Linked DNA regions of Homo sapiens. The protein of the gene in region 3 interacts with the protein of the main gene of each other region in a pairwise test. Each region holds a gene or a part of one and is shown on either strand. Other genes may lie near its edges. The genes, in order: POGZ, SRCIN1, LITAF, BAG3, CBX1, IMMP2L and SMAD5.

Region 1 (3,073 bases), on a different chromosome or scaffold from region 3:
CTTTCACCCTCAAAGAGCTGGTGAAGACTTTCAGGCTCAATTGTCTCTTCAGGAGATGATCTGGGTCGTGGAGTGGAAGACTCAGAATGTTCCCCACTCAGCTTCAGTTGCTCCTCTAGGGAGGCAATTAGCTCCTCCTGCATGTCAGCATTTCTTGTAGGTGAGTTAATGTTGCCATCGGGGCCAGGCAGAACACTAGCCACCAGGAAGGAGCGCTGAACTAGCTCTGGACAGTCCCCAATGACACCTAGCACTTCACCCAGCCAGACAAGCACCAGCTGAAGCAGGACATCAGAATCACATGCAGTATCTGCCATTTCCCGAGCCTGTTCCTTCCATTTTTTATGCAGGAAGTTCTTGACAGTTCTTTTGATGCATACATCTAATGGCTGAATTTTGGAGCTACAGCCTGCTGGGACCACTGCAGGCAAAGTGCTAGAGGCACTAAGCATAGCCAGTACCTCTTCTGACAAGTGAGTGCGATGACAGTCCATCACAAGCATGCCTTTGCTGCGCTGGCAAGCTGTGTGCTTCTGCCACACTCGAGTTGACCACAGCTCCATGATCTCGTCATCACTGTAGCCACTCTCCTTTGCCTCTAGCAATATGGAGTCTGGCATGTTAGCAGGCTGATCCATCTGCCCTCTGTAGAAAACCAGGGTGGGAAGGACAGTGCCATCTGCCAGAATGGCTAGGACTACATCACACCAAGGTTCCCCTGTGCCCACTGTCTGCAGGGCATTCTCCTTTCGATCATCACTGCTCAGCACCTCTGTATCCAGGAACAAAGAGATCTCATCAATAGCCACAATCATAGACAAGGGTAAGTCCTGGTTGTGAATCTGCCGTTGTACAAAATCAATGAAGAGTCCTGCATTCTCTGCTACATCCTTAGGTAGGGTGTGGGCCACAGCTCGCCGGGCATGGGGAGTCAGGTGGTGCCGCAGCATGAAACGCACAGCCCACTCATAGGAGATCTTAAACCCCCCTTCCAAAGAACGTCCTATTTTGGTGGCCTTCTGGAACAAGGTCTCCTCATTTACAGGTAGCTGTTGTTCGCGCTGGGTTAGCACCCACTCAGCCAGTTTCTCTTCTGCCTCAAAGCTCAGATATTTGCCCTCTAGATTCTCCCCCTGGGAGGCCTGGAAACGTCGAAGCCAACGGCGAATACGTCGCTGGGGATTTCGGAAGTGTTCAGCTGCCTGTTCTGTATTGCAGCATAGAGCAAACAGTACTACTCGAAGCTTCTTCACAGACAGCTGCTCCTTTTTGCCAACTCCACCACTACCACCACCACCTGATGCTAGCTCAGGTTCTTGGGTGACTGGGCTCCCTTCATCCTGATCATCAACATTCAGACATTCGGCTCCCTCTGTAGCCAGCGGTGGAAGGGCTAAAGCCTGCGGGTGAGTGGGGGTTGGTGGTGGGGTTGCAGTTGAGGCTGGTGATGGGAGTGCTGGGGCTAAGGGAGTTAGTAGCTCTTCAGGCTCAGCTGGGGTGGCCCCCGCAGATTTCACAGTGGCAGCTTTGTTAGTGGGGAAGGAAGGAGGAGGGTACATATTCTTCACGTTCCGGTCATGCACTCGGTCACGAGTCTGGCCATGCCTAAAGGGGTGAGGAGCAAAGAGAAGAGGAGAAATCTCAGTTCAACTAGGAAATTGAAACAATAATATGATAATAATAATAATAATAACAGAGTAAACACACTGCAAACCAGAAATTAAATTGTGAGGTGAGTTTTTGTTACCTTGAGTGAGCTATCCAAGTGAGTCCTATGGAAAATGAAACAACAAAAATAGTTAGCTCAGTGAAAAAATAAGCCCTCCAAAGACAGTGCCCTGGGATTCAACTTACTACATACAAATACGCTGTTCGCAGTGACCAGCTTTCCCAGTTTTATATAAACTTCAGGTCGGAAGGTTTCTAATTAGGTCCAGCACATCTCAACAGTGAATGAGTGAGGCCAAGTAGGTATGCTCCTGATGCATACAGTACGAACCTGTATCTTTTTTCCTCCCCTTGCTCAACTAATCCCCTTCTCTCCTACTTACCCCGTGGCAGGATGCTGCTGGATCTGTGAGAGGGGTTGAATACCAAATGCTTGGCCATAGCATCGCCCACAGAGGTAACAAAGGTACATGAAGTGCAGGCCAGCTTGATTCCACTAAAAAAGAGAATTGAGACTATGTAAGACAAACACAGCAGTGACACTTGAGACCATTAAGCTTTGAGGCTTAAGAAAGAAAAGGAATGCCCTCCCACTTTCTCCTTTTTCTGAAATTAATTCACATAACCACCTCTCCAAATAATGAAAAACCTGAAAATTAATGTAAAAACCTGAAAAATTAAGATGCTGCCAATAAGTTTTTTCTTACCTCACAGAATTTTTAAACAAAGCCAAATACTTGGGGCTCTTCCGTGGAACATGATTGCTGAGAAAGACAAAGAAGTGGTATGAGTTACGGAGTTCTGCTGGCTAAGCTAGAGATCACCAGCCAGTGACAATGCCCCCAACAAAAGAGACACTTCTTCAGTGCACCCTAATCTCAACCTAAGCCAGTTTTCCTGTCACCATGCTTCTTAAACTTTAATATGCATACAAGTCACTGAGGATCTATTAAAATTCACATTCTGGTTCAGTAGGCCTAGGGCGGGGCTGAGAGTCAGCATTTCTAACAAGCTCCCACCTAATACTACTGGTACTTGAATAGCAAGGCCCTATGAAATTAGAGCACAGACCATCAAAACCGAAAAAACAGAGCCTCTCACTCTGCTAGGAGAGAAGAACAAATAGCTCTAAGAGTTGAAGGAGGAAACATATTAGAAGCAGGGGAGAAAATGAAATGAGTGCTCAAGAATCTGGCTGGGGCCGGGCGCAGTGGCTCATGTCTGTAATCCCAGCACTTTAGGGAGGCCGAGGCAGGTGGATCACCTGAGCTCAGGAGTTTGAGACCAGCCTGGCCAACAAGGTGAAACCCCGTCTCTACTAAAAATACAAAAAAATCAGCCAGGCATGGTGGTGCACACCTATAATCCCAGCTACTTGGGAGGCTGAGACAGGAGAATCACTTGA
Region 2 (5,158 bases), on a different chromosome or scaffold from region 3:
GGGCACAACCTGTCCCCCACCCCCCACAAATCCTAGAGTCCAGAGCCTCAGCTACCAGGAGACTCACCCTCAGCAGCTTGTGCCCAAGCAGGGGTCCCTAGGTCAGGAAACCAGGCTTAAAGCTAGACCTAAGTCTGCTGGGCCTCTGAGGCAGTCTGTGTCCCTCTCTGGGCCTCAAGGACATAAATGAAGAAAGAAAACAGATTTCCTTGCCAGGGCTTGGAGGAGATAAATGCTTGAGATTCCTCGAAAGAGCAGCTTTTATGGCAAGCCCTGGATCCTTCCCCTGAACTCCCTGCCTGCCCAGCACCCACAGGCCCCTTTGCAAGAGCACCCCCCACCACAGCTGCCTCTTCATGTGCCCCAGGCCTGCTACCCAGGATGACAGACGCCATGAACTGTTCTTCCTTGAGCCCCAAACTCAGCTCCCTCAGTTCAAATCCTCAACACTGTCTCCCTTCTTTCCCCAAAACCTAACCTGGGGTGGGGGTGGGGGCTCAACAAACTGGGTACTTCAAAGAGCCCAGCCGCCTCCCTCCTAAGCACTTCCAGGGCTGGGGTTTTGGCAGAGAATTCCAAGGTTGGCATAGGCAGATGGCAGCCATGCCACCCCCACCCTCTAGCTCTGACCACACTGTCGATGCCCACAGCCAAAGAAGGAATCAATGGTTCTAATTAAACCCTTTTTCCAGGGTGGGTCCCTGGCGAGAGAGAGGGAAGAGGGAGAGAGACAGGGAAGGGAGGGGGGAGAGGGGGAGAGAGAGAGAAAGAGAGAGAGAGAGCGCGAGAGTGCATCAGAGAGGCCCTGCATCCCAGTGCCCAACCCAGTATCCTGCACATCTTTAAGACGCCTGGAACCCAGCAGGGATGAGGCCACGAAGACCCCAGACCCTCCGCATTAGGCAAGGAGGCAAGTAGAGGGGCAGGGGAAAGCCTGGGGTGGGGGTAGCTCTTTGAGGGGTTCATTCGAGCGACCCTTCCCCTAGTGGAGCATCCCTCTCCACTCAGCACTCCCCGAGGACCACAGTTGCCTCTTCCAGATAGAGCTCCAGGGCACAGACAGTGGGAGCCAGAAGGGGGATTTGTGCCTCCATCCCAGCCTTGAGGGTCATCACAGAGAACCAGCCATCGTGGAAAGGGCAGAAGAAGCAGGAATTGTTGTGGGGGGACTGGACAAAGACCCTCTTGTCCCCAAGGCAGGGTGGCAGGAAGCCAGGGCAAAGCCTTTGCACTTGCTGCCAGTGGTGCCTGGGTGCCAGGCAGTCTGGGTGGGGACAGCGGGGTGGAGGGGGGGTGCATCTTATTCTTGGAAACCCTCCCCTTATGCCCAGAGCCCTCACCCCATCCCTTGCTTCTACCCCAGGCCACCAGCTAAGTCTCTGTCCCCAGCAACTCTCAGCTTGCCTGGAGCACTCCTTCCTGTGTGAATGTTCCTTCCCATGTCCCTGACACCTGTATGGAGTGGCCCATCACCAACCAGAACCAGCAAAACCCCTCAAATGCACCATAGCTGCTCCCCACATACAACCACACCAGAAACCACCACCATCACAGCTGCCACCAGTGGCGACAGCCTCACAATCTCCATCAAATGCATCATCAATTTTTAAAGATCAACAAGAGGGAAAGGGATGGGAATAAGAGAAACTGAGGCAAGGAATTAGACAGCAAAGCAGTTGGCTCAAGGTCACCCAGACCAAGATACCAAGAGTCGGGAAGAAGGTATCCTGACGACCCCCCAAAAGTGCTCAAACCCCACCCAAAGGAACATTCAGGCCCACAAACCTGGAAGTCTGGTCAGCTTCCCTCACTCCCAAGCCTCACCTGTTTCTCCCTTCCCCAAAACAGACAGCAGCTCCTCCATCTCCTTTTGAAAGGCTGCTGCCAGAAACCCCCACCCCCAGCTCGGGGAGCCCACTTTCCTTAAAGTTGGGGTGCTGCAGGACCTCCTTGTCCCACAACATTTGAGGAGGGGGGCTGGGAAGATCCCCCTCCTTGCATACTTCCCCGCGCCTGCTCACCTGGCTCCCCTCGGCCCCCAGGGTCCCTCGGTCCAGCCTCCTCCCTGGGAGAGCGGGCTCTGCCCTCCGCCGTCCTCTCCCACCAGGCCAGGGCAAAGCGCCGGAGGCACTGCCAGGGCTGCATGGGGACGCGTGGGGCTGGGGGACGAGCACCAGCAGCCGCACACGCCCCGCCGGGCCCTGACAGCTGAGCTGCGGAGGCACCCGGCCTGTCCCCTCTGCTTCCACCAGCATCCTGCTGCCCCCACCGACAGGACTCGGAGCTGGCCCGGGAGCTTCTGACGTAGCAGGGGGGTGCGTGGGAGGGGAGGGGGGGCCACGGTGCGTCCCCTTCCCAGCCCCACCCTCCACCCCTCAGCCGCCTGCCTTCCCTATCTTCTCACTCACCCTAGATGCCCTCCCCAGCTGGGGGCGCCCTCCCCTGCCCCCTGGCCTCTGCAGGGGGAGGGGTTAAGATCAAATAGCCCCTCCCTAAACCCCTCCCTCTCGTGGCCCTCCCTACCCGCTGGTAGAGCGGGGAGCTGGTCCCCAGTTTCTGCAACTGCTGCTGAGGCTCAGAGGTCTCCAGGGCTAGGGCCTCGAGGTGCGGGGAGGGGGGGTGTGTGGAATACAGGCTTGTATCCTGGCAACGCGGCCAACCCCAGAACGCACTCATCCCCTTCCCTCCCTGGAGGCTGGCGCAAAGGGCCCACCACCACCATCCTAGCCCGTGCACCCCATTCTGGGAGCTGGGGGAGGGAGGCCTTTGATGCACCCCTCACTTCTCCATCCCCTTCCCCTCCCCTGCATCCTCCACTTCCCCCACCTCGGAGGGACGCCCTTCTCCCCCCACCCTCCTCACCATCCATCCCCCTTCTTCTCCTCACCCCTCCCCCTTCCACACAAGCCCCTTTACAGTTGAACCCCTCTGGCCCCCACCCCGGGGCGTAGTGAGGCCCTCCCCACCCAGTCTCCTGCCTCGCCACCCTGCCCCCTTCTCTGGTCCCAGCACTCCTCTCGCCCGGGTCCTTCTCCCAAGCCCGGCGCACAGCGGTCCCCTGCCCCCACACACCTGCGCCCCAGCATCCCTCGCCCCGCCGGCCACCGCCTCCCCGGCCCGGCCGCCGCCCCCGCCCCCGGCCGAGGGGGAAAACACACAAAGAAAACAGAAATACCTTCCACTTAAGCATGGAGGCACATTAGGGAGGAGAGAGACAGGGACATGCCTTGGGACGGAGCGTTCCCCATCGGGCGGGGGCGCGGGGGGCGGGGGCCCCGGGCCGGCCTGCCTGGCGCTCGCCCTCTCGCCGCCTCGCGGGCTCCTCGCTCGGCCCCAGCCCCGGGGCGCGGTGCCAGGCGGGCGGGCCGGGGGCGCGGGCCCCGCCGGGGTGGACCAGCTGGGAGGGCGCCGGCGGCCGGGCGTGTGGGTGAGCGCGCGCGCGGGCGTGTCACCGAGTGTGCGAGAGCGAGTGTGTGTGTGTTTGAGTGTGTGTCTGCGCGCGCGCGGGCCGGCGCGGGTGTGTCACTGCGGGCGGGCGCGCGCGCGGCGCGGGCGCGCGCGTGTGGCCGGAACTTACAAAGGGCCGCCCGGGGCGGCGGGGGCGGGGGAGGGGAGGGGGCACTGCGCCTTCTCGCGCCCTCCAGCTTCACCGCGTGATCCCGCAGCGCGCGGCCGGGGCCGGGCGCGGGGCGCGCTCACTCTCTCCTTCCCGCGCCACCTGCTTCGTCCCACCCCAAGTAGTCTTCGCGCCACGATAGAGACAAATACATTGACCGAGGACCGGCTCGGAGGAGGCACCCGGGGAAGCGGGGACACTTGGAGGGTGGAGGACTCCTGGGTCTCCAAGCCCGGGCGCGCCTAGGGATGGAAAGGCTCTCGGGGCTGGGTGGGGAGGCGGGGCGGCGAGACTGGGGGCTCCCTTCAGCCAAGGTGACCGCGGAAACCAACAGCCGCCCCATGCTGGGAGCGCCCGGATCCTCCTCTGCTTCTGCCTCGCGACCCCTCACCCCAGCGCGCCTAGACGCGGCTCGGTCGGAGGGTCTGGGCTCCCCGGCGCCCCCTGCTGGGCCGCCGCCTCGCCCCCGCTCCGGGTTGCAGCCCCTCCTGCAGGCGTGCGCGGGAACTGCAGGCAGGTCCGCGCCCCTCCGGCCAGTGAGACCCCACCGTAGGACGCTCCAGCGACGGTCCCTGCTCACGCCTCGCTTGGCGGCGTCACTGCCGCCTCTACTTCAGCCCGCAGAGCACTAGCTCGGCTCCACCCTGCCGTCCCCCGCCCCTCCGCGTCCCACCTTCGTTGGCCTACCTGTTGGCTCCGCAGACTTCTCCAGCGCTGACCCGGACCCAGACCCAGACCCAGGCCCGCGCCGACACCTCGTGATTCCAGCGGCCCCCTCCCTCCCTCGCTCCGATGCTCTGGCCAGTCCCTTCTCTCTCAAGCTTTCTTGCGGAGGAGAAGGTGGGCTGAGTCCCCTGTCCCTTTTATTTACTTCTGGAGTTTCCAAAAGCAGTTTAGGTGAGCAAGAGAGTGGACACAGTACTTCTATTCACTGTGGGCCATCAGGCAGAGTGGCAGGCAGGCAGAGAGCCCAGGAGAGGAGACCCCACCCCAAGTGGCCCAAATGACAAACCGGTTTCCCCACTTCCTGGTCTACCCAGTTGCAACCTTAATCTGGGCTCTCCCAATTTCCTATCCACCCCCAGGCCTGCCCCTGAGCCAACCACATGCCCAGCTAGGGACAAGGTCCCAGATTCCCCTTAGAGATAAATAACCAATTGCAGTAACTCAGATGCCAGGGCCAGGACCAGAGGAGAGGCCCTTCCCAGCTCCAGTGGGACAGATCAGGAGGACAGCCAAGAGCTGTGTCCTGGACACACAGTCTGGGCACACGACCCCAGCGGCAGGCACCCTGACTTCTTCCCTCCTGGGCCAACTGCCTCTCCCTCTGCCAACTGGATGGTGCCCATCTTTTGGCCTCTGAGCGCACAGTGGGCATCCATCCAGTGCCCTGCCTGGCTGCCTGCCCAGGATGGGCATGGGAGGCAGCAGGCTCTGTGTGGGGGAGGCTCAGGGGAGGCAAGGGTAGCTTCCCCTCAGCACACGGACACCACCTCCCAAGCGGCTGGGAGCCCAGAGCTCTGGCACAGGTCGCTCCTCCGT
Region 3 (4,533 bases):
AAATTTGTTTTAATACAAATATCCAGAGGCAATGGACTTTTTTTTTTTTTAAGCATTTTCTGCCCACAGAATGAAAACAACAGCAGAGTCCTGTGGGCAAGAGGGGGAATCAGGTGCCCAGAAAGCTGTTTTGTCTCCTTCCTTCCTTATTTAACACATGACCTCAAGGAAGTTAACTAAACTCTCTGGGACTCTGAGCCTCTTATTGAAGTTAGGAAGAGAAATATTGTTCCTTCTCAACCTCAAGTCACCAAAGGACAATGTGGAGGAACGTGCCGGTTGCATGAGGCTCCTGAAACTCACAAACACCGTTTCCTTCAAGGAAAAGAATGGAGCCCCTTGGGGTTTTCTGAGTGGCTCACGTGGCCAGGTATAAGGAAGCTACTTTTACCTGCTTGGTGGGAAACAAAAAATTGATTGTGTTTCCTCAGATTTTTCTCCCAGAACAGAAACTGTTATCTCTTTAAACATAATACCTTTGGTGCAGACATAAAATTTATATAATTTCCCTGCATGGGCAATGGGAAAAATACTTCGGGTCATAAAAGGATAAGAAGTTTTGAAGCAATTCCTATGAAGAATTTTAATGTACAGATTCTTTAAAGCTTCCCTCGGGCTCGAGCAAAACATTATTATTTAGGTCATGAAATTCTAGAAGAAAAAGGAATCCCTGAGGATATTGCCCTGTACACAGCTGGAAGCAGCTGTGAAGCTTGTCCCTACATGCAGGGCGTGGTTTCAGCAGATAAGCAAGAAGAAAAGACGGAAGACCAATTTCTGGGGACGGATACGCTTAAGAGCAGCAGGGATGACTTGGCCTCCCAGGGGGCATTTTTGTTCAGAACACTGGGGAGCGTGGTGCTCCTAGCATTAAGCGGGTGGGGGCCAGGGATGCTATTCAATATCCTACAATGCACAGGACACCCCCTACAATAAAGAAATGTCTTGGGCCAGGCATGATGGCCCACACCTGTAATCCCAGCACTTTGGGAGGCTGAGGCGGGTGGACCACCTGAGGTCAGGAGTTCGAGACCAGCCTGGCCAACATGGTGAGACCCTATCTCTACTAAAAGTACAAAATATTAGCCGGGCCTGACGGTGCACACCTGTAATCCCAGCTACTCAGGAGGCTGAGGCAGGAGAATAGCTTGAACCTGGGAGGCGGAGGTTGCAGTGAGCCGGGATCGTGCTACTGCACTCCAGCCTGGGCAACAGAGTGAGAATCCATCACAAAAAAAGAAAGAAATGCCTTAGGCCAGGCACAGTGGCTCACACCTGTAACCCCAGCAGTTTGGGAGGCCAAGGTGGGCAGATCACCTGAGGTCAGGAGTTTGAGACCAGCCTGGCCAAGATGGTGAAATGCCAGCTCTACTAAAAATAAGCTGGGCGTGGTTGTGCACCCCTATAATCCCAGCTACACGGGACGCTAAGGCAGGAGAATCGTTTGAACCTGAGCAGTGGGGGTTACAGTGAGCCGAGATCGCCCCACTGTACTCCAGCCTGGGCGACAGAACCAGATTCCATCTCAAAAAAAAACAACACAAATGTCTGGCCCTGAATGTCAAGCATGGTGCAGTTGAGAACCCACCCCCGCCAGCACCCAGAGAGAAGGGCAGGATGGCTTGGGGCCAAGTGGGAGGCAGACTCACCCCAGCAGGCACAGGCTCCCGCAGGACAGCCAGGTCAGAGCACCGGCGTTATAGGACAGCTGACTCACGATCATCTTGTTGCAGGAAGGACAACACATTTGGATAGGGCGGTCCAAAAAGGTGATGGGGTGCTGCACGTAGACCGTCTGCACGGTAACTGATGAAAGGGAGAGGGACAAACACAGGTTGCTCAGGAAACAAGGCCAATAGCATTCACTACAGGACAAAGAGAGGAACGCAGGGATGCCAGCAAATATTATATTTGTACATTTGTGTTCATAGCATGCGTTCATCGTCTGGCTATCTATGAGAGCCAAAAGGGGAAGGAACACCAGTGTCCATCGACGGACCAATAAACTAACACAGCGAAGTTTATCCATCCACCAGAATATGATTCAGCCTCAAAAAGAAAGGAGGACCGGGCGCGGTAGCTCATGCCTGTAATCCCAACACTTTGGGAGGCCGAGGTGGGAGGACTGCTTGAGCCTAGGAGTTTGAGATCAGCCTAGGCAACATGACAAGACCTCATCTCTACAAAAAAATATAAAAATTAGCCCAGCGTGGGAGTACACGCCTGTAGTCCCAGCTACTCAGGAGGCTGAGGTGGGAGGATCAGTTGAGTCTGAGAGATTGAGGATGCAGTGAATCATGATTGCGCCACTGCTCTCCAGCCTGGACAACAGAGCGACGCTCAGTCCCAAAAACAAATAAATAAATTTTAACCAGCCTCACACTGTGCCTAGCAGCTCTTGATAAATAATCCACTCTCTTTACACAAACCCTTTGATAAACTCTGACAGCCAATGATAAGGGTAGAGTTTACCAAGCCAGGAAACGCAGGCCAACTCTGTAAGACAACAAGCTAGTGAACTGTGTTGATACAAGAAATGAAAATATAAAATAATGCTAGGAAGAAAAAGCTATGTGAAAACATGTTCGAACATTCTCAAGAATCAGAAGAGAATCCAGGCCGGGCACGGTGGCTCACACCTGTAATCCCAGCAAATCCCTTGGCTTTGGGAGGCCGAGGTGCGTGGATCACCAGAGGTCAGGAGTTCAAGACCAGCCTGGCCAACATGGTGAAACCCTGTTTCTAAAGACAAAAATTAGCCGGGCATGATGGCACGTGCCTGTAGTCCCAGCTACTTGGGAGGCTGAGGCAGGAGAATTGCTTGAACTTGGGAGGCAGAGGTTGCAGTGAGCCGAGATTATGCCACTGCACTCCAGCCTGGGCAACAGAACAAGACTCTACCTCAAAAAAAAAAAAAAAAAAAAAAAGAGAGAACCCAGGGTGATGAAAATCATCAAGCACTTCAGTTGTTAAGCTCATATTTTTGTTAAAGCAACTTCCTTCTGTTCCTTTTTACGTTAGAATGTCATTTATATAACAAATGAATTAGGGGGAAATTACTGCCTAGAGTTAACTGAACTTAGTAATACTCATAGAAAGACCCTCCTTCCAGAAAAGTAGTATTAAATCATACTTTAGCACTTACGTGTAATTTTTTTTTGGCAGGGGGGACAAGGTCTTGTTGTGTTGCCCAGGCTGGAGTGCAGGGGTACAATCATAGCTCACTGCAGCCTCAACCTCCTGGGCTTAAGCAATCCTCCCACCTCAGCCTCCCAAGTAGCTGGGACTACAGGTACAAGCCATCACACTCAGCTAATTTTATTTTCATAGAGACAATGTCTCACTATGTCACTCAGGCTGGTTTGGAACTCCTGGCCTCAGGTGATCCTCCTGCCTCAGCCTCCTCAGTAGCTAGGATTACAGGCGCAAGCCACCACACCCTGTTCATACATTTTATTAAGTGTTTTTGGGGTTCAAGAATAAGTTATTTGGACCAGGCTCTGTGACTCATGCTGATAATTCTAACACTTTGGGAGGCCAAGGGAGGTGGGAAGATCGTTTGAGCTCAGGAGTTAAAGATCAGCCTGGAAAAACAGTGAGACCCGATTTACACAAAAATTTAAAAATTAGCCAGGTGTGGTGCTGTATGCCTGTAGTCTCAGCTATTCCAGAGACTGAAGTGGGAGGATCACTTGAGCCCAGGAGGTCCAGGCTATAGCGAGCCATGACTGCACCACTGCACTCCAACCTGGGCAACATGGTGAGACCCTGTCTCAAAAAAAAAAAAAAAGAAAAAGAAAAAGAAACTATTTATTGATCACAGGATGGTCTAAGAATCTAAAGTCATTATCTCATCCTCTTCCAGCTCAAAATAACTTGAACACAACAATAAGAGTTCACTTTTATCAAACGAGTACTCTGTATTTGGCACACACAACTTCCTCTCATGTTAACAACTCACTGATATTTATAAATAGGTACTTGATGAAACCTATTTTACAAATGGGGAAGCTGAGGCACAAGGAGGTTATGTGAACCCAGGCAGTCTGATTCACGGGCCCCCTCTCTGAGCTAAAGATTTCTTTCAGAACTACCTGTGATACTAAAGCAGTGACATACCAGGGCACCCTTGGGCGGAAGGAAGCACCAAAGGACAGGGACCATCTAGTTGCTCAAAAGCAGAAGAGCAACTTGCATTGAGGGTGAGCTGGTATGAAAACACAATCACACATTGCTCAGGACGGTTTCTTCTCCTCCCTATTCCTACCTCGGCCCTGGCCTCAGGGCAGAAGTTCTGCATCAGACCTCAGGAGGAAGTGTGCGGGCCCTTAAGACACAAACTCCCATTCTCAGAAGAAAGTTGGTTGTGCCTCCAAGAGATGTGCCAAAAGATTCGTATATGATGACCATGGGAAAGATCCTAAACCATACTTTATTACGGAAAAGCTGTGAGCCTCACCAACATGGAATCTAAAAGACTGCGTGTGGAATTTCAAGGTAAGGGGGTAAAACTGGAACGTACTGGCACTTCAC
Region 4 (3,973 bases), on a different chromosome or scaffold from region 3:
TCCATGCTGTGGGGCTGTGGTCCCTCCCAAGGTTAAAAAAAAAAAAAAAAAGCCACTGGCACAGCAAGAAGAATCTCCTTCTACCCAGGCCTGAGTGTATCTCGTCCCTAACTCCAGAGGCTTCTAGGAACCCAATCCAGGAAGATAAATCTGGTCTCAGTTTGGTTTGGTGACTCACAAGGTGTTAATAAAGATGACCCCAAGATTCTCAGAGCACATTTCCAACCCCCAGTGACCTAGACTCCAAGGAACACTTTGGCCAGCCTTGGGCAATAGTGGGAGCTGGCTTCCCTGTGCGCTTCCTTTTTTAATTTTTAGAGACAGGGTCTCAACTCTGTTGCCCAGGTTGGAGTGCAGTGGCGGGATCACAGCTCACGGCAGCCTCATCTCTTGGACTTAAACTATCTTCACGTCTCAGCATCCCTGGTAGCTTGGGACTGAAGACGCATGCCACCACCTGGCTGATTTGTTTTTTGTAGAGACAGGGTCTTGCTATGTTGCCCAGGCTGGTCTCAAACTCCTGGCCTCAAGGGATCCTCCTGCCTTGGCCTCCCAAAGTGCTGGGATAACAGGTGTGAGCCATTGCGCCAGGCCCTCTGGGCACTTTTGGACAATCTCAGCTTCTTGGTGAGGCCTGAGGACAGGTGGGCAGACATGCTACCTAACTGGCACCTTGGCTGTTGGCTGGGTCGGTCCGAACGGATGCAGCAGGCATGTTCCCATTACCGGAGTTCACAGCCCTGAGTCTTCCCAGGTTCCTGTTGCAATCTGAGACTGAAAGGTGACCAAGACAATTCTCTCTTGAGCCGGGCTATTGGAGACGTCACAAAACCCAAAGCAGGCTTGTTAAATGCACCTGTCATTTATTCTGACTGAAACCAGGGACAGACAATCTCCATGATGCCACTGCTTTCAAAGATTTAGAAACCACAAAAACCATTTTGAGTTATATTATTACTTTATTTTCTTTTTTTAAAATGTAGCATTAAAGTCATCCAACATACAGATATTCCTATGGCTCCTGGCACATTTTACTCTCTCTAAAGTCAGGTATTTTAATTATGAGATGAAGAAAATCATCTCATTAAAATGGCAACATTTCTGATAAATGTTTCATATTTATGTGATGGGTAATTGACTCCCCATCTACCCCTCCAGTCCAGAGCTACAAAAGACAGTGCACAACCACAGCTAACAGGTGGTGGGGGTGCCCAAGTAGACAGGGCTGCAGAACAACAAGCAACGGGGTTAAACTTCTCAAACAACAAGCAACTTCTTTATTTGTACAGAGTAAGAATATAGAAGAAAAGCATCATTTTCCTTTTTAGCCCTTTTATTAGTGTTTTGCCTCCACCCAAGTTACTGCATACCAAGCAGCTAATAAAAACCAACTGACTTAAAGTCTCTGAAATGCATGCAACTTAAAATTCCCTAAAGCACACATCGGTTCCGAGTCTGATTTTTACAGGGCAGAGGCTACGGTGCTGCTGGGTTACCAGGGGTGTCTGTCATGCTGCTGGGGTTTGAAGTCGCTGCTGCTGTGGCTTCTGGCTGCTGGGTTTCTGTGTGGGGATCTTCTGCATTTCCAGCATTTTTCTTGCCCTTGTCTGCTGCCACGGCACCCATCTCCATGATTGCCTGCAGTGGCTGATCTGCTTCAAGGTTGCTGGGCTGGAGTTCATAGACCTGGACTTGACCTGGGACATCAATGGCTTTCTGTTCAAGTTTTTCCAAGATGGTCTGAACCTTCCTGACACCGTCTCTCCTGGCCTGACGCACATCGGCTCGTCCCTCGGGGTCCACTGAATCCAGGGCCAGCAGCTCTTTGGTCAAATACTCTTCGATCATCAGGTACTTTTTGTCAGTCTTCTTGCCTTCAAAGTTGTCTACAGCCTGCTCCAGCCCCTGTACCTTCTCCAGGATGGCTTCCACTTTCAGCACTCCTGGATGTTTTGGGGGAGCCTCGGCTTCTCCTGGTTTTGGAGGTGTAGCTTCTGCAGGGGCAGTGCTGGGGGCTGCCCTCTCTTCTGTAGCCACACTCTTGGGGGAAGAGGGGACAGCAGAAGGGCCAGGGCTGGGAGGAGGACAAGGAACTGGAGCAGGGGGAACTTTCACCTCTACCTTCTCAGAGGGAGGTGGGGGCTTCTGGGAAACAGGTTTAGAATCCACCTCTTTGCGGATCACTTGAATTGGGATGTGTCCAGGAGGGAGTTCTGGTCCAACTGGGCCTGGCTTACTTTCTGGTTTGTTTTCAGGCTGGGAAACAGGTGCAGTTTCTCGATGGGTCATGGGCTGCTGAAAAAAGGACACAAAAATATATTTTTAATAACTGACTGAAAGTCACAGAAATTGTTTGTAGCTAGTACAGATTAGAAAGAAAACTGAGAAATGGCTTTTTAAAAAAAGTTTAATAGTATAAAAGATTTTCAAAGTCAATCAATGGCTGTTACAAAATAAAAACATGGTATTAATCATGTATGTAACCCAATCATTAGTCAGGCTTCCATTGATCACCCCAGGCTATTTGTCTATTACCTCTCACTGAATTTCTCTGTAGATGGTATTCTTAATGGCAATGAAAAGAAACCCAATAAAATTTTCAAAAATGAAAATAGCTAACCTGGGCAATATAGTAAGACCCCAACCCTACAAAAAATCTTTAAAAATTAGCCAGGTGTGGGAGCTTGCACTCGTAGTCCCAGCTACTCAGAAGGCTGAGGCGGAAGAATCGCTTGAGCCCAGGAATTCAAGGCTGTAGTGAGCCACGATTATGTCATTGCACTCCAGCCTGAGTGACAGAGCGAGATCCTGTCTCAAAGAAGGAAGGGAGGGAGGGAGGAAGGAAGGAAGGAAGGGGGGAAGGAAGGAAGGAAGGAAGGGGAGAAGGGGGCAAGGGGGAAGGGGGCAGGAAGGAAGGAGGGAAGGGGGAAGGGGGAAGGAAGCAGGGAAGGGGGGAAGGGGAAGGGGGGAAGGGAGGGGGAGGGAAGGAGGGAAGGAAGGAAGGAAAGAAGGAAAAAAATAGCAAAAACTCATGCTGACTGCTGAACTAGGCTGACTCAGAGCAGAGTCCTGAGTGACTCCAGCTCTCAGGTGTTGCAGCCTTGGAGTCGCTGCCTCTGGTCCTTCTTCCTTACACTGTGCAGACAGTCTGCTCACGGTGTGATCTTCTTGTCTCCTGTTTTAGAAAAGATACGATCTTCTTTTTTTAAAACCGTGACAGCCTAGTAGTTTCTGCCCAGACCAATGTATTTTTTTAGGATTAGCCAAGATGCTCTAAATGGTTAACTCCAGAACAATTTTGCTTCAGGATAGCTGTGCTGTAGCCTAACATTCAGCAATGACACAGCGCCTCTGTGCTAACCTCTGGCTGCACAGGTTTTCCTGTGACTATAAACTACAGCCATATAGATATATAGATTTTTGTGGGGGACAGGGTCTCACTCTGTTGCCCAGGCTGGAGTGCAGCGGGGCTATCACAGCTCAATGCAGCCTCAACCTTCTGGCCTCAAGTGATCCTCTCACCTTAGCTTCATGATTAGTTGCAACTACAGGCACATACCATCATGCCTGGCTAATTTTTCTATTTTTTTGTAGAGACAGGGTTTCACCATGCTGCCCAGGCTGGTCTTGAATTTCTAAGCTCAAGCAATCTGCCCACCTCGGCCTCCCAAAGTGCTAGGATTATAGGTGTGAGCCACCACGCCTAGTAAGCCATATATTTTTTAATGAGCTATGCTCAAAGCAAAAATATCTTGACGCTTTTTGTTTTTGTTTTTGTTTTTGAGACGGAGCCTCGCTCTGTCACCCAGGCTGGAGTGTGCAGTGGTGTGATCTCAGTTCACTGCAACCTCTGCCTCCCAAGTTCAAGCAATCCTCCCACCCCAGCCTCCCGAGTAGCTGGGATTACAGGCGCCCACCAACATGCCTGGTTAACTTTTTTTTTTGTATTTTTAGTAGAGATGGGGTTTCACCA
Region 5 (4,440 bases), on a different chromosome or scaffold from region 3:
GGGAGGCGGAAGTTGCGATGCGCCAAGATCGTGCCACTGCACTCCAGCCTGGGCATCAAGAGTGAAACTCTGTCTCAAAAAAAAAAAAAAAAAAAAAAAAGAAGTGTGGGCTTGGTAGGGCGCAGTGGCTCATGCTTGTAATCCCAGCACATTGGGAGGCCAAGGCAGGTGGATCACTTGAGGTCAGGAGTTCAAGATCAGCCTGGCTAAGATGGTGAAACCCCAACTCTAGTAAAAATACAAAAATCATCCAGGTGTGGTGGCACATACCTGTAATCCCAGATAGTCAGGAGGCTAAAGCAGGAGAATTCCTTGAACTTGGGAGGTGAAGGCTGCAGTGAACCAAGATTGTGCCACTGCACTCCAGCCTGGGATACAGGACAAGACTCTGTCTCCAAAAAAAAAAAGTGTGGGCTGGGCTCTGTGGCCCACACCTGTAATCTCAGCACTTTGGGAGGCCGAGGTGGGTGGATCCTTCAGGCTAGGAGTTTGAGACCAGCCCAGCAACATGGTGAAACCCCGTGTCTACTAAAAATACAAAAAAAAAATTAGCCAGCATGGCGCACCTGTAGTCCCAGCTACTCAAGAAGCTGAGGCACGATAATTGCTTGAATCCGGAAAACGGGGTTAGGATGCAGTGAGCTGAGATCGCGCCACTGCACTCCAGCCTGGGTGACGGACCAAGACTCTGTCTCAAAGGAAAAAAAAAAAAAAAAAGTGTGCTCCTGACTGGGCTTGGTGGCTCACACCTATAAATCAGTACTTTGGGAAGTCGAGGCGGGTGGATCACTTGACGCCTGGAGTTCAAGACCAGCCTGGCCAACATGGTGACACCCCATATCTACTAAGAATACAAAAATTAGCCAGGTGTGGTGGTGCATGCCTGTAATCCCAGCCACTTGGGAGGGTGGGGCACAAGAATTACTTGAACCAGGCAGGCAGAGGTTGCAGTGAGCCAAGATCTTGACACTGCACTCCAGCCTCAGTGACAGAGCAAGACTCTGCCTCAAAAAAAAAAAGAAAGAAAAAAGAAAGTAGTGTGCTCCTGTACAGGGCCAACAGTCAAAATCCTATCCATTCTTCAAGACCCAGCTTAAAAATGCTACTTTCTCCATGAAGCCTACCCAACCTAGCTAAATAATATTTCTCTTTTCTTTGGGGTTCCCAAAGCATTCTGTTTCTATTTTTACTTGCACATACAATTAAAGGTAGGTCTGGAACCTGAACAAGTTGTTGAACCCTATATGGACAATAAAGATGGATGTCTCAGGTGGGGCGCGGTGGCTCACGCCTGTAATCCCAGCACTTTGGGAGGCTGAGGCAGGCAGATCTCCTGAGGTTGGGAGTTCGAGACCAGCCTGACCAACATGGAGAAACCCCATCTCTACTAAAAATGCAAAATTAGCTGGGCATGGTGGTACACGCCTGTAATCCCAGCTACCTGGGAGGCTGAGGTTGCGGTGAGCTGAGATTGCACCATTGCACTCCAGCCTGGGCAACAAGAACAAAACTCCATCTCAAAAAAAAGAGGATGACTGTCTCAGAAGCATCAGGGAATAGAATTCCAAAGCTATAAGCTTTTAAGGGAATAAGCAGCAAGATAAATCTGATCCATAAGCCCTAAAGAGAAAACAAGAAAGAAGTACCTTTTGTTGAAAGAATCAGCAACTACATACCAATCATCAAAAGGCAGGTGAAGGCATGTGTAGTATATTCAGGTGGTAGTCTTGTTTCTAAACTGCTTGTAGTCTGTAAGCTGTGGCTGTTTGCGAAGCAAATGCTTTCCAGATGGAAAACTTGACTAAGCAGAAAACAAGAACTTATGCCACACACAGTTAGCAGGAGTTTCTTTTTTTTTTGGAGATGGAGTCTTGCTCTTTCACCCAGGCTAGAGTACAGTGGTGCAATCTCGGCTCCCTGCAACCTCCGCCTCCCAGGTTCAAGCAGTTCTCCTGCCTCAGCCTCCCGAGTCACTGGGATTACAGGCATGCACCACCACGCCCAGCTAATTGTGTATTTTTAGTAGAGACGGAGTTTCTCCATGTTGGTCAGGCTGGTCTTCAGTTCCCACCTGAGGTGATCCACCCATCTAGGCCTCCCATAGTGCTGGTATTATAGGCGTGAGCCATCACGCCCAGTCAGGAGTTTCATTTTTAAAGGAACACCAGCCCTTGAATTCCAGAGGATCAAAGGCTAGAATGCTGGTGTGCGAATACATTTTGAATTTTATCTGAGATGTGTTCTGAAACTTGGAAAACCCCTTGAGTATGTTGACATGGATATTTTGACACAGATTTTTGGGTTGAGAGGCCACAAGAGTCTACAAATGTTAGTATGGACACAGAGATACCTCAAGCTATCTTTCAAAGGTGAATTTAAGATAAAATAAAAGTGGTTAGAAAGCTAGACCAGAATTATGACTACATTGGAAACGTATCAGAACACCACAGTGGCCAGGCATGGTGGCTCACACCTGCAATCCCAGCACTTTGAGAGGCTGAGGTGGGTGGATCACTTGAGGTCAGGATTTCAAGACCAGCCTGGCCAACATGGTGAGACCTCATCTCTACTAAAAATACAAAAAAAGTTAGCTGGGCATGGTGGTGTGCACCTGTATTCCTAGCTCCTCAGGAGGCTGAGGCAGGAGAATCACTTGAACCCGGGAGGTGGAAGCTGCAGTGAGCTGAGTGGAGTGCACCACTGCACTCCAGCCTGGGTGACAGAGCAAGACTTGTCTAAAAAAAGAAAAGAAAAACAAAAACCACCACAGTGGGCCAGGTGCAGTGGCTCATGTCTGTAATCCCAGTACTTTGGGAGGGTGAGGTGGGAAGATTACTTGAGGCCAGGAGTTCGAAACTAGCCTGGGCAACATAGTGAGTCCCTGCCTCTATTTATGTGAGAAAAATAAAAGTTCAAAAACCCCCACCACAAGTTGGGCGTGGTGGCTCACGCCTGTAATCTCTGCACTTTGGAGGCCAAGGAGGGTGGATCACCTGAGGTCAGGAGTTGAAGACCAACCTGGCCAACATGATGAAACCCCATCTCTACTAAAAAAATACAAAAAATTAGCCAGGCGTGGTGGCAGGCGCCTGTAATTCCAGCTACTTAGGAGGCCTGAGGCAGGAGAATCACTTGAACCGAGGAGGCGGAGGTTGCAGTAAGCTGAGATTGCGCCACTGCACTCCAGCCTGGGCAACAAGAGCGAAACTCCGTCTCAAAAAAAGAAAAAAAAACGCCACCACATTGTACCCCATAAGGATACACCATTCTTGTCAGTTAAAAATTAATACTATAGGCTGGGCGCAGTGGCTCACACCTGTAATCCCAACACTTTGGGTGGCCGAGGAGGGTAGATCACCCGAGGTCAGGAGTTCAACACCAGCCTGGCCAACATGGCAAGACCCCCATCTCTACTAAAAATACAAAAATTAGCCGGGCGTTGTCGGGGCCCCCTGGTAGTCCCAGCTACTCCGGAGGCTGAAGCAGGAGGATCGCTTGAACCTGGGAGGCGGAGGTTGCAGTGAGCTGAGATCGCGCCACTGCACTCCAGCTTTGGCGACAGAGCGAGACTCTGTCTCAAAAAAAAAAAAAAAAAATTAATACCATAGTTCTGTTACGCACTCAAAGTGTCAACTATTATTTTAAAAGGCACAATTTCACAGACAAATTAGGTTGCCCCCTTCTGGTCATCAAAGTATAAATGCTAAAGGCAGGAAAGATTTAATACAAGTTATTCTATGCAAATATTGACAAGATCTAAATTTTGTCCATATCTGAGTAACTTCTCCAAATAACCTTGGAAAGGCTATTCAATTTTTCAACAGACATTGCTACTGGTAAATTATTGCTCAGGTCAATACAAAGGACACAGAAGATTTTTCAAGATTCTTTTAAAACAGATATATTCAAGCTATTTGCTTGCTGACAAAACCCAGAATCTGAGGCCTGAGGTATTTAAAACGGCCAGTTGCACAGCCTGTATACCTTTTCTATATTTAGTACCAGAGTGAGTACAAAACTGAAGCTAACCATTCTGGGCAACAGAGACTGTCCCCACAAAAAAGAAGCCATGCATGGTGGCATGAGACTGTAGTCCTAGCTACTCAAGAGGCTGTGGTGGGAGGACTGCTTGTGTCCAGGAGGTTGAGGCTTCAGTGAGCCATGATGCCACCACTGCACTCCAGCCTGGCAACAGAGCGACACTCTGTCTTAAAAAAACAAAAAACAAACAAACAAACAAACAAAAAGAAACTAACTGAGGCTAAGACAAACATGGCAAAGCAACAGCTTAACTCTGCCAAATGTCACAGACACAGGACAAGCAAACTACTATGCACATTAATTTGGCTGAGTTCTCAGAATGGATCTCAAAGCTCCCCTATTCATCATTCATTCATCAACAATCTGAACGGCCTACTATGTGCCAGGCACTAATGAACA
Region 6 (4,533 bases), on a different chromosome or scaffold from region 3:
ATCATCTTACATAGTTATCCATTTTTGTGTGTATGACAAGAGTAGCTAAAATCTACTCATTTAGCAAAAGTCAGGAATACAATACAGTATTATATAGTACTGATGCTGTACATGAGTTCCCAAACTCTTTCATTATACATGGCTGCTACTTTGTGTCCTTTGACCTACATCTCAATTTCCTTCCCCCTCCCCTGGGATCACTGTTTTATTCTCCATCTCTGTATGCACACATATTAGAATCCCCTAGAGAGCTTTTAAAAATTCCGACTGATATCTTTACAAGGTTGCGGTTTCATTTTCTTTGGGTATGTATATATATATATATATACATGCACACAGAAGAGGGATGGCTAATTGGTACAAAATAGAAGTAATGGTAGTTCTATTTTTAATTTCTTTAGGAACCTCCCTACTTTTTCCATAATGGTTGTACCAATAGTATACAAGGGTTCTCTTTTCTCCCACCCTCGCCAACACTTATCTCTTGTTTTATTTGGTAGTAGCCATCTTGATGGGTGTGAATATATGGAAACAACCTAACTGTCCAACAAAAGACAACAGAAAATCAAACTGCAGTACATATATAGAATGGAATATTATTCAGCCTTAAAAAAGAAATAGATTCTGCTTTTTGCCATAAGATAGGTAAACCTAGGGGACATTATGCTAAGTGAAGTAAGCCAAATGCAGAAAGAAAAATATTGTATTATCTCACATGTGGAATCTTAAAAAAAAGTCAAATACATAGTGAAATCATATCACTGCTTCAGATTTTATTTTTTGAGAGAGAAACAACATGTCTGTATGCTGTGAGTTAGAAACACCATAGAAAGGGAGATGTTGAAAATACAGTTGCCTGATTCCTTGCTTGTCATATTTTTTTTTTTGTGAATGAAGATTAGGTTGTCGCTTTGTTTGCCTACTCCTTCCCGGCTTGCAAAATTCATATCTGACCCCAACTGTCAGATATGAATTTTAAATGTCCTTTCTACTCTATTCTTTCCTGCCCCACAGTTCACTGCTGTCTTGCTCTCACTACGTCTGGCCCTTTTGCATACATTATTCTCTAACCTAATCCAGTTGTGCGTAAAAACTCCATTTTCCTTTATTAAAAGTTGAAAAATTTCACAGGAGTGTCTGCTAGGAGAATGGAGGAAATAATGATAACAAACATAAAAATCATTCAGCATAGCCAACATGTATTAATATCTGCTATGGTAAAGGCCCTGGATACAAAGATATATATGGCAGGAAGGATGAGTAACATAGGGATCTGATCTTAATGCATTTATGCCTAGTGCTCCATTATTGGAGCGCTAAGCTAGTGGGAGTTATTTATATCCTACTTCTCAAGGTCATCGCCAAGGCCTGATTTTTCACAAAAAAAATTTGCAACCTCCAGCATAAATGGGTTAAGGACCCCTCAGGGCAGTGAGAAAAATGGATATATAAATAAAGCAGCACCAGTACTTTGGGAGGCTGAGGTGGGTGGATCACCAGAGGTCAGGAGTTCGAGACTAGCCTGGCCAATATGGCAAAACCCCGTCTCTACTAAAAATACAAAAATTAGTCAGGCATGCTGGCATGTACCTGTAATCCCAGAGGCTGAGGCAGGAGAATCACTTGAACCCAGGAGGTGGAGGTTGCAGTGAGCCGAGAATGTGGTACTGCACTCCAGCCTGGGTGACAGAGCAAGACTCCATCTCAAATAATAATAATAATAATAATAAAATAAAAATAAAGCAATGCTTTGAGGGACAATATGTGCTATGATAGAGTTCAAGGTAAGATAGATGCAAAAAATGGACTTCATTATTTTTGTGATCCTGAAGGTCTCACAAAAGGTGATACCTGAGCTATAGCTTGAGATATGGCATGGTGAGGTTCGGGGAGTAAGATTAGGGGAATAAAATATTCCTTAATGGCCCCACGATAGCAGCAGAAGGGGCTTGGGTTTCTCATCTTCCCTTTCTTCTTGTTCTGCGTGATTTTATTGCAAGATATTTTTGTGTTTGAGGGAGTTCTTAGGGGGTTAATATGTTTCAGTTTACATATAGACGTATCAGCATTTTCTCCCTTGTGATATAAACTTTCTGTGAATTTACCAACACTGGTTTATTATATATTAGACAGCTAACACAAACCAGTGCAATTATATCAAGTATCTGGGGGATGAGGTCCAGGCAGTGATATTTTCAAAGCATCTTAGGTGTCCTCATGGCAGTCAGGGTGGAGAACCACTGGGCTAAAACATGGCTTAGAAGAAAAGGCTGGGATTTGGAGCTAAAAAATTGTAGATTAGATTCTTGAATTCCTTTTAATAGTTACGTATCCTTAGTTAAGTTACTGAGACTTCTCTAAGGCCATCATTGAAAAATAGGATGGTAGTATACCCGTCCTGCCTACCTGTTTTGCAAAGTTATATGGCTCAAAAGAGGAGATTTGTGTGAAGGAACATTATATGCAGATGTGATTATAACAATAAAATGTTCTCTTGACCTTCTCCAGAAGTGGACAGGCTTAAGAGCTGGCTACCTTGTCCTGTAAGATAGGAACTACTTTATGGATTTTGATTTAATATTTTACCATCACGAGCATTTTGATGATATATTTTACTACATTTGTGTAATGCTACAAGGTTGAAGACCTAAAGCCAAAATGCAGAACCTTAAAGAAATAGCAGTTGAGCATTTCCTGTCTGATATATTCTAATTGTTTAAAATTACACAGATGCTTATTGTAATTAAGATTTAAGTGTGTAGTCTCAGTGTCAGTAATATTTTAGTATTAAAATTCTCTAAATGTGTTAAGTGTTTATTTTCATGATATGCACATTAAAAATAGCCATTTTCCAGAAAATAGTAACAACTCCACAGAGCACAATGGAGCACCACAAATGGACTTATTTTGGAGATTCCCATTATATTCGTTAAGAATGCAGGGACATATACTGTGTCTCTGTACTGTAGGAAGCTTGACATACTAGTATCAGTCATATAATCGTGTAGGAATGATCATCCTTACAGTATTATACCTTATTTTAGTTGAGAAGAAAGTGGTATTGTTTAATGACAAATTGAACCTAAAGCCTAAAGACTGGGTTCCAGATCTGTTTTCTCTACTCATTCCTATATGATAATTGGTAAATTAACCTCTCTGAGCCTCATATGTAAAATTGGGTTCTCTGTTGTTTTGTAACATGAAAACCTTAGTGGCTGAAAACAACAATGATTGTTTGTTATCTCATGGTTGCTGTGGGTCAGCAATTTGAGGGTCCTTGCTTGGTTCTCTGGAGGTTGCTGTCAGATATCAGCAGGAGTGGAAGTTTTATAGGAGCATCACTGGAGCTAAAAGATTCACTTCCAAGGTGGCTTACTCACTTGGCTGGCCAGTTGGTGTTGGCAGGTTGGTTCCTTTCCACAATGGGCTTGCCGTGGGACTATTCTCATGAGATGGCAGATGACTTTCCCGAGATTCAAGCTGCCAAAGTAGAAACTGCAGTGCCCTTTATGACTTACCTGTGGAAGTCATACACCATCATTTCAGATGTATTCAATTGGTTCTACAGACCAGCCCTGATTCAGTATGGGAGTGGATTACACAAGGACATGAGGCAAGGATCATTGTGGACTGTCTTGTGAGGGTAGGCTCTCTGAGAGGATAACAGTCTCTACCTGACATAGGATTGCTTTGAGTTTCATTGTAAGCATTTATGTGAGAGTCCTTTGTAAACCATTAAAGCAGCATATAAATGTGTTATAGAAGTGATGGTGGCTCACACCTGTAATCCCAGCACTTTGGGAGGCCGAGGCAGGTGGATCACTTGAGGTCAGGAGTTTGAGAACAGCCTGGCCAACATAGTGAAACTCTGTCTCTACTAAAAATACAAAAATTAGCCGGGTGTGATGATACATGCCTGTGATGCCAGGTCCTCAGGAGGCTGAGGCAGGAGGATCTCTTGAACCCTGGAGGTGGAAGTTGCAGTGGGCAGAGATTGTGCCCGTGCACTCCAGGCTGGGTGACAGAGTGAGACTCTGTCTCAAAACAAAACAAAACAAAACAAAAATGATGCTATTCCTTTTGACCAGTAAAACTGAATGGAAGTTGAATTATTTTGCTTTGTGCCATGTTAGCATTATGACACACCTTGCTCCAAATCCTTTCCTGCTTGCTTTACCTTATATCTTACTTTATATTCAAGAATTCTCCCCCTTTAATAATCAGCTAGAACAAAATAGCCTTTTTCAAGTTTCTCACATCTCTGGTGTAGAAGTAGTACATTGAATGGGAGAAAATTATAAACGAGCAGTGGCTATAGCATGAACTTGTTGGTCATCTGAGTAATAGCCTCAGGTTTCATTCTAGAGCATCTCCTTGAGGAAACCTCTGAATGCCTTCTTTGTATTTCTCTTTTAGTACTTGCTCTACCTTGCCTGGATTATAGTCTTACCATATTTTTTACTGGAAAATTCTTAAGGTAGTAGGGGCTATATTTCCTCCTATTCAGTGTCTTTTATCACCTTTAACCTAATG
Region 7 (3,728 bases), on a different chromosome or scaffold from region 3:
GGTTTTTCTACATTTCTGGCAAGGGCACATGATTTTTCACCATTCCTTTTTTTTTTTTTTTTTTTTTTTTGAGACGCAGTATCGCTTGTTGCCCAGGCTGCAGTACAATGGCATGATCTTGGCTCAGTGCAACCTCCACCTCCTGGGTTCGAGCGATTCTCCTGTCTTCAGCCTCCCAAGTAGCTGGGATTACAGGCACGCGCCACCACACCCGGCTAATTTTTGGATTTTTAGTAGAGACGGGGTTTCACCATGTTGGCCAGGCTTCTCTTGAATTCCTGACCTTAGGTGATCCACCTGCCTCAGCCTCCCAAAAAGCTGGGATTACAGGCCTGAGCCACTGTGCCTCGCTCACCATTCCTTTCTAATTAGAATGAGTTTGCATGTCTTGTATATGTAATTCAGAGGTTGGTAAAAGTGTGCAACACAGTGACAATGATGCAAAGTCAGTCTGTGATTTAAAATTTTTTCAAAAAAGAAGACAAAAGGAAATAAAAAATTGTAAATTCACAAAGTGGATCATCAAAGGTTGATACACCGAGGTCAAGCAACATAAGAAGTAATTATTCTGAATCAAAGAACTAGTGGAAATGTAAAAGATAGTAACAATTTTAATATTTGAGTTCTTATGTTCTAAGTACTGTTCTAAATACTGTATTTGTATTACACTTCAATTAATCTTCCCTCAAATCCTTCCTATGAAGTAGACTTTTCCTTTACAGGTCAGGAAAGTGAGGCATAGAGTGGTTAAGCAACTTGTCTAAGCTATGAGGCCCATGACTCAAACGCAGGCAGGCCAACTCCAGAGCCAAAACAAAAAAAGACACATTAAGCAGGTTTTGAGGTTTATTAAAGTAAAGAATTAGCAAACAATATGCAAAAACAAAGTTCTTAAGAGTTATGGCTTTCAAAAGCACAATATAGTAAAACCTAATACATTTTCATAAGTATCAAAATAACAGAATTGAAGCATGTTGCTAGAATTTCAGCTTCTACAACATAAACAGAAGCACAACAAATACAAATAAGCAGCAGACCTACAGTGCAGCCACTAGCTTGGTCTTCATTATCTGTATATGAAATATCTTTTTAAGAAAATGTGGGCAGGTAGATACAAACATTCTATTTCCATGATTACAATCCTCTTCGATTTTAAAATAAGTGAATTTCAAAATACAACTTACGCCAACCATATTTAAAAAAAAAATCACTTGCCTAACCATTATCTTCTAGAGTTCCTATAGTTAAAATACTTTATGAATAAATCAATGCAACATCATCTTCAATGATATTAGAAGGGAAAATCTGACCCTAAAAGATTTTTTTTTTTTTTCCACAAAGAACTTGGGATTCTTTGGCCTTACTGGAGTTTTGTTATAGCTAACACCAGTCTGTATTAATTAAGAAGGCACTATTAATGAGGGACGGAAAAATCTACCTGTACACAAAATTCTGTACTTTAACAGCATCTTCAAATAAACCTTTAAAGGATAATGGTTTACGATCATTTTAAGAATTTTAAGAACTGAGTTATTTGGACAAGAACCATACAAACCTTTTTCACTCTGCCATGAATGATCGAAGAATCCTGCTCTAGGACTGGATCTTTTCAGAGAAAATAACTTATCACCTGTTTTACTGCAGTTGCTACTAGCAATTATTATATAGCATGTGCTCTTCAAAACAGAAATAAAAATTGATGTGTGAAATCCCTTTCATTGGTTTTGGTAAACCATCCAATTTTGGGCTGTCATTTCAATTATAATACAGTTGTATTTTAAGAGAGAAGATAATCCAATATAACAAAGGCTTGATAAATATTGTCACTCTGTAATCAGGACATACTAAACTGTAATTCAGCGAATTCCAAAGAACTTTCCAGGTTTCTGTCCAGCAGGTAGAATTCTTTGTTTATGCAGAAGAAATGCCTTCAATTCTCACATTCGATTCAGGCATCTTGTGTGATAAGAAAAGCTCCTAAGAATCTTACTTATATCAATGAGAAAAATGCTGCTGCTCTGGGAGACCTGAGATTACTCCCCAAAAAGCTGCCCTAATAATATCTGATACCACCTATAAACCACCACTTAGGAAAACTCTCTCCATAAAAATCACCAAACACTTCTAAAACCACCAGGCTACCTACTACCCTAAGATACTTGCTCATCTAGCTGAACAATATAACGATGACACACATTTATATTCATACCCAAGAGATTAGGTGAGGATTTAACTAGTAAGACAAAGAAGGGATCTGACATTCTTTAAAGTTAAAATGTAAGTCCAAAATATAAGTCATCACAAAAGGCTGAACTCAGTAATTATCAAAAAATTCTTCCTTCCTCATGAAGTAAAAAGGATATTTATATATTTTAAGTGGCAAAGGTGATAATCATCCAAAGTACTATTAAGCAATTGATTAGAAAAAGTATAAAGAAATAGATCTAAATTGGTACATCAGATGTTCTCTATCACAGAAGTACAGCACTTTGATAGGTACTATCAAACTTTTTAGAGTTTCTCTGCTGTTGGAAGAATTTCATTTTTTGTATAAACATTCTCTTCCAACAAAATACTACCACACAGGGGAAGGAACTGTTCCCCACAGGTACCCTCAGGTAATATGGAAGGTTTTTAACATGAACCCCAGTTCTAATCTTGACAACAGATTTCAGGTATGAGTACTTAATAATCACTTCACATCCTGAAGGATATCTTACTCTCAAATGTTATGAAAGGTATAAAATAGCTACATCCTCTATCTGTGCCATTAGATGTGGCTTGTTGAACTGTCTAGTACTCTTACTCTGGATTTCACCTCAGAAACCCAACCAATTCTATTATTTTTTTTATATAGCAACAATACAATGTGAAAAATTATTTATATTCTGACACACATATTTGACATTTTGATTGACGTCTTCCTTAAATCTCCTCTTAAAAAGAGGGTTAGTTTTAGCAGATCAATAACACGCCTACTAGTTTACATTTCACGTCAGCCAGGCAATACTGACCAGACCAATACTGACCAGACCATAAATATTATGTAGAAATGTTAAGCAAATGAATCTCTTATATCTTGCTTTTTGCCAATCAATATCTTTTTGTTGCTTTAATTCATTACTGAGATTTCATTCTATTCTGCTGTTTGCATTACCAAACTGGTTGCAATTTTATTATTCCCAGATTCTGTCTTTTCAGCCAGCATAAATATATTGTACATGCTATGTGATTATTCTAGTGGTGCTAGAATTTTACTATAAAACATTCTGTAGATTAAATTAAAACATATAACCATAATTTGCTAAAATGGTTTCTTTCAGAGGTACTTTCCTTTCACTAGCCAGTTTTTAAAAATCTTACTAGCAAATTTTATCTCCTATACATAGATATATGAAAATCCTTAGGGACTGTAAGAATAGCTGGACTGAATAAAATTTTCATTTAAAGTCCAAGGGTGGGGAGTTGACAACTTTTAGGAGATACAACAGGCTTATAGTTCTCTGTCAAACTCTTAGTTGTTAATAGCTTTAGTACTGTCATTCATGAGACACAACTCCTAAGAGAAAACAAAGAAAAGGCCAATCACGTAAGATCTTGTTAACTCAAGACTGTGACATAATGACCCCAAATAAAAACAATTTTTAATTAACTCACAGTAGAAAACACCAATAAAACAACTCTCTAATTTCCACTAGTTTACTGCAGCCCAATGAAGTTGATTACAT

The links.
Region 1: the proteins of LITAF (region 3) and POGZ interact in binary tests that used the Homo sapiens proteins (3 or more experiments, as listed by UniProt).
Region 2: the proteins of LITAF (region 3) and SRCIN1 interact in binary tests that used the Homo sapiens proteins (3 or more experiments, as listed by UniProt).
Region 4: the proteins of LITAF (region 3) and BAG3 interact in binary tests that used the Homo sapiens proteins (3 or more experiments, as listed by UniProt).
Region 5: the proteins of LITAF (region 3) and CBX1 interact in binary tests that used the Homo sapiens proteins (3 or more experiments, as listed by UniProt).
Region 6: the proteins of LITAF (region 3) and IMMP2L interact in binary tests that used the Homo sapiens proteins (3 or more experiments, as listed by UniProt).
Region 7: the proteins of LITAF (region 3) and SMAD5 interact in binary tests that used the Homo sapiens proteins (3 or more experiments, as listed by UniProt).

What each region holds. Positions count from the first base shown.
Region 1 is NC_000001.11:151,404,860-151,407,932, forward strand, and holds part of POGZ (pogo transposable element with ZNF domain), read right to left. Parts: intron 2,433-3,073; coding exon 2,376-2,432; intron 2,165-2,375; coding exon 2,052-2,164; intron 1,773-2,051; coding exon 1,748-1,772; intron 1,606-1,747; coding exon 1-1,605. UniProt on the Homo sapiens protein: Plays a role in mitotic cell cycle progression and is involved in kinetochore assembly and mitotic sister chromatid cohesion.
Region 2 is NC_000017.11:38,602,458-38,607,615, forward strand, and holds the start of SRCIN1 (SRC kinase signaling inhibitor 1), read right to left. Parts: upstream 3,496-5,158; 5' UTR 3,249-3,495; coding exon 3,227-3,248; intron 2,262-3,226; exon of another isoform or gene 2,146-2,261; coding exon of another isoform or gene 2,022-2,145; intron 1-2,021. UniProt on the Homo sapiens protein: Acts as a negative regulator of SRC by activating CSK which inhibits SRC activity and downstream signaling, leading to impaired cell spreading and migration. Regulates dendritic spine morphology. Involved in calcium-dependent exocytosis.
Region 3 is NC_000016.10:11,551,884-11,556,416, forward strand, and holds part of LITAF (lipopolysaccharide-induced tumor necrosis factor-alpha factor), read right to left. Parts: intron 1,807-4,533; coding exon 1,650-1,806; intron 1-1,649.
Region 4 is NC_000010.11:119,674,786-119,678,758, reverse strand, and holds the end of BAG3 (BAG family molecular chaperone regulator 3), read right to left. Parts: intron 2,296-3,973; coding exon 1,477-2,295; 3' UTR 940-1,476; downstream 1-939. UniProt on the Homo sapiens protein: Co-chaperone and adapter protein that connects different classes of molecular chaperones including heat shock proteins 70 (HSP70s), e.g. HSPA1A/HSP70 or HSPA8/HSC70, and small heat shock proteins (sHSPs), e.g. HSPB8.
Region 5 is NC_000017.11:48,094,039-48,098,478, forward strand, and holds part of CBX1 (chromobox protein homolog 1), read right to left. Parts: intron 1-4,440. UniProt on the Homo sapiens protein: Component of heterochromatin. Recognizes and binds histone H3 tails methylated at 'Lys-9', leading to epigenetic repression. Interaction with lamin B receptor (LBR) can contribute to the association of the heterochromatin with the inner nuclear membrane.
Region 6 is NC_000007.14:111,551,814-111,556,346, reverse strand, and holds part of IMMP2L (mitochondrial inner membrane protease subunit 2), read left to right. Parts: intron 1-4,533. UniProt on the Homo sapiens protein: Catalyzes the removal of transit peptides required for the targeting of proteins from the mitochondrial matrix, across the inner membrane, into the inter-membrane space. Known to process the nuclear encoded protein DIABLO.
Region 7 is NC_000005.10:136,179,839-136,183,566, reverse strand, and holds the end of SMAD5 (mothers against decapentaplegic homolog 5), read right to left. Parts: 3' UTR 834-3,728; downstream 1-833. UniProt on the Homo sapiens protein: Transcriptional regulator that plays a role in various cellular processes including embryonic development, cell differentiation, angiogenesis and tissue homeostasis.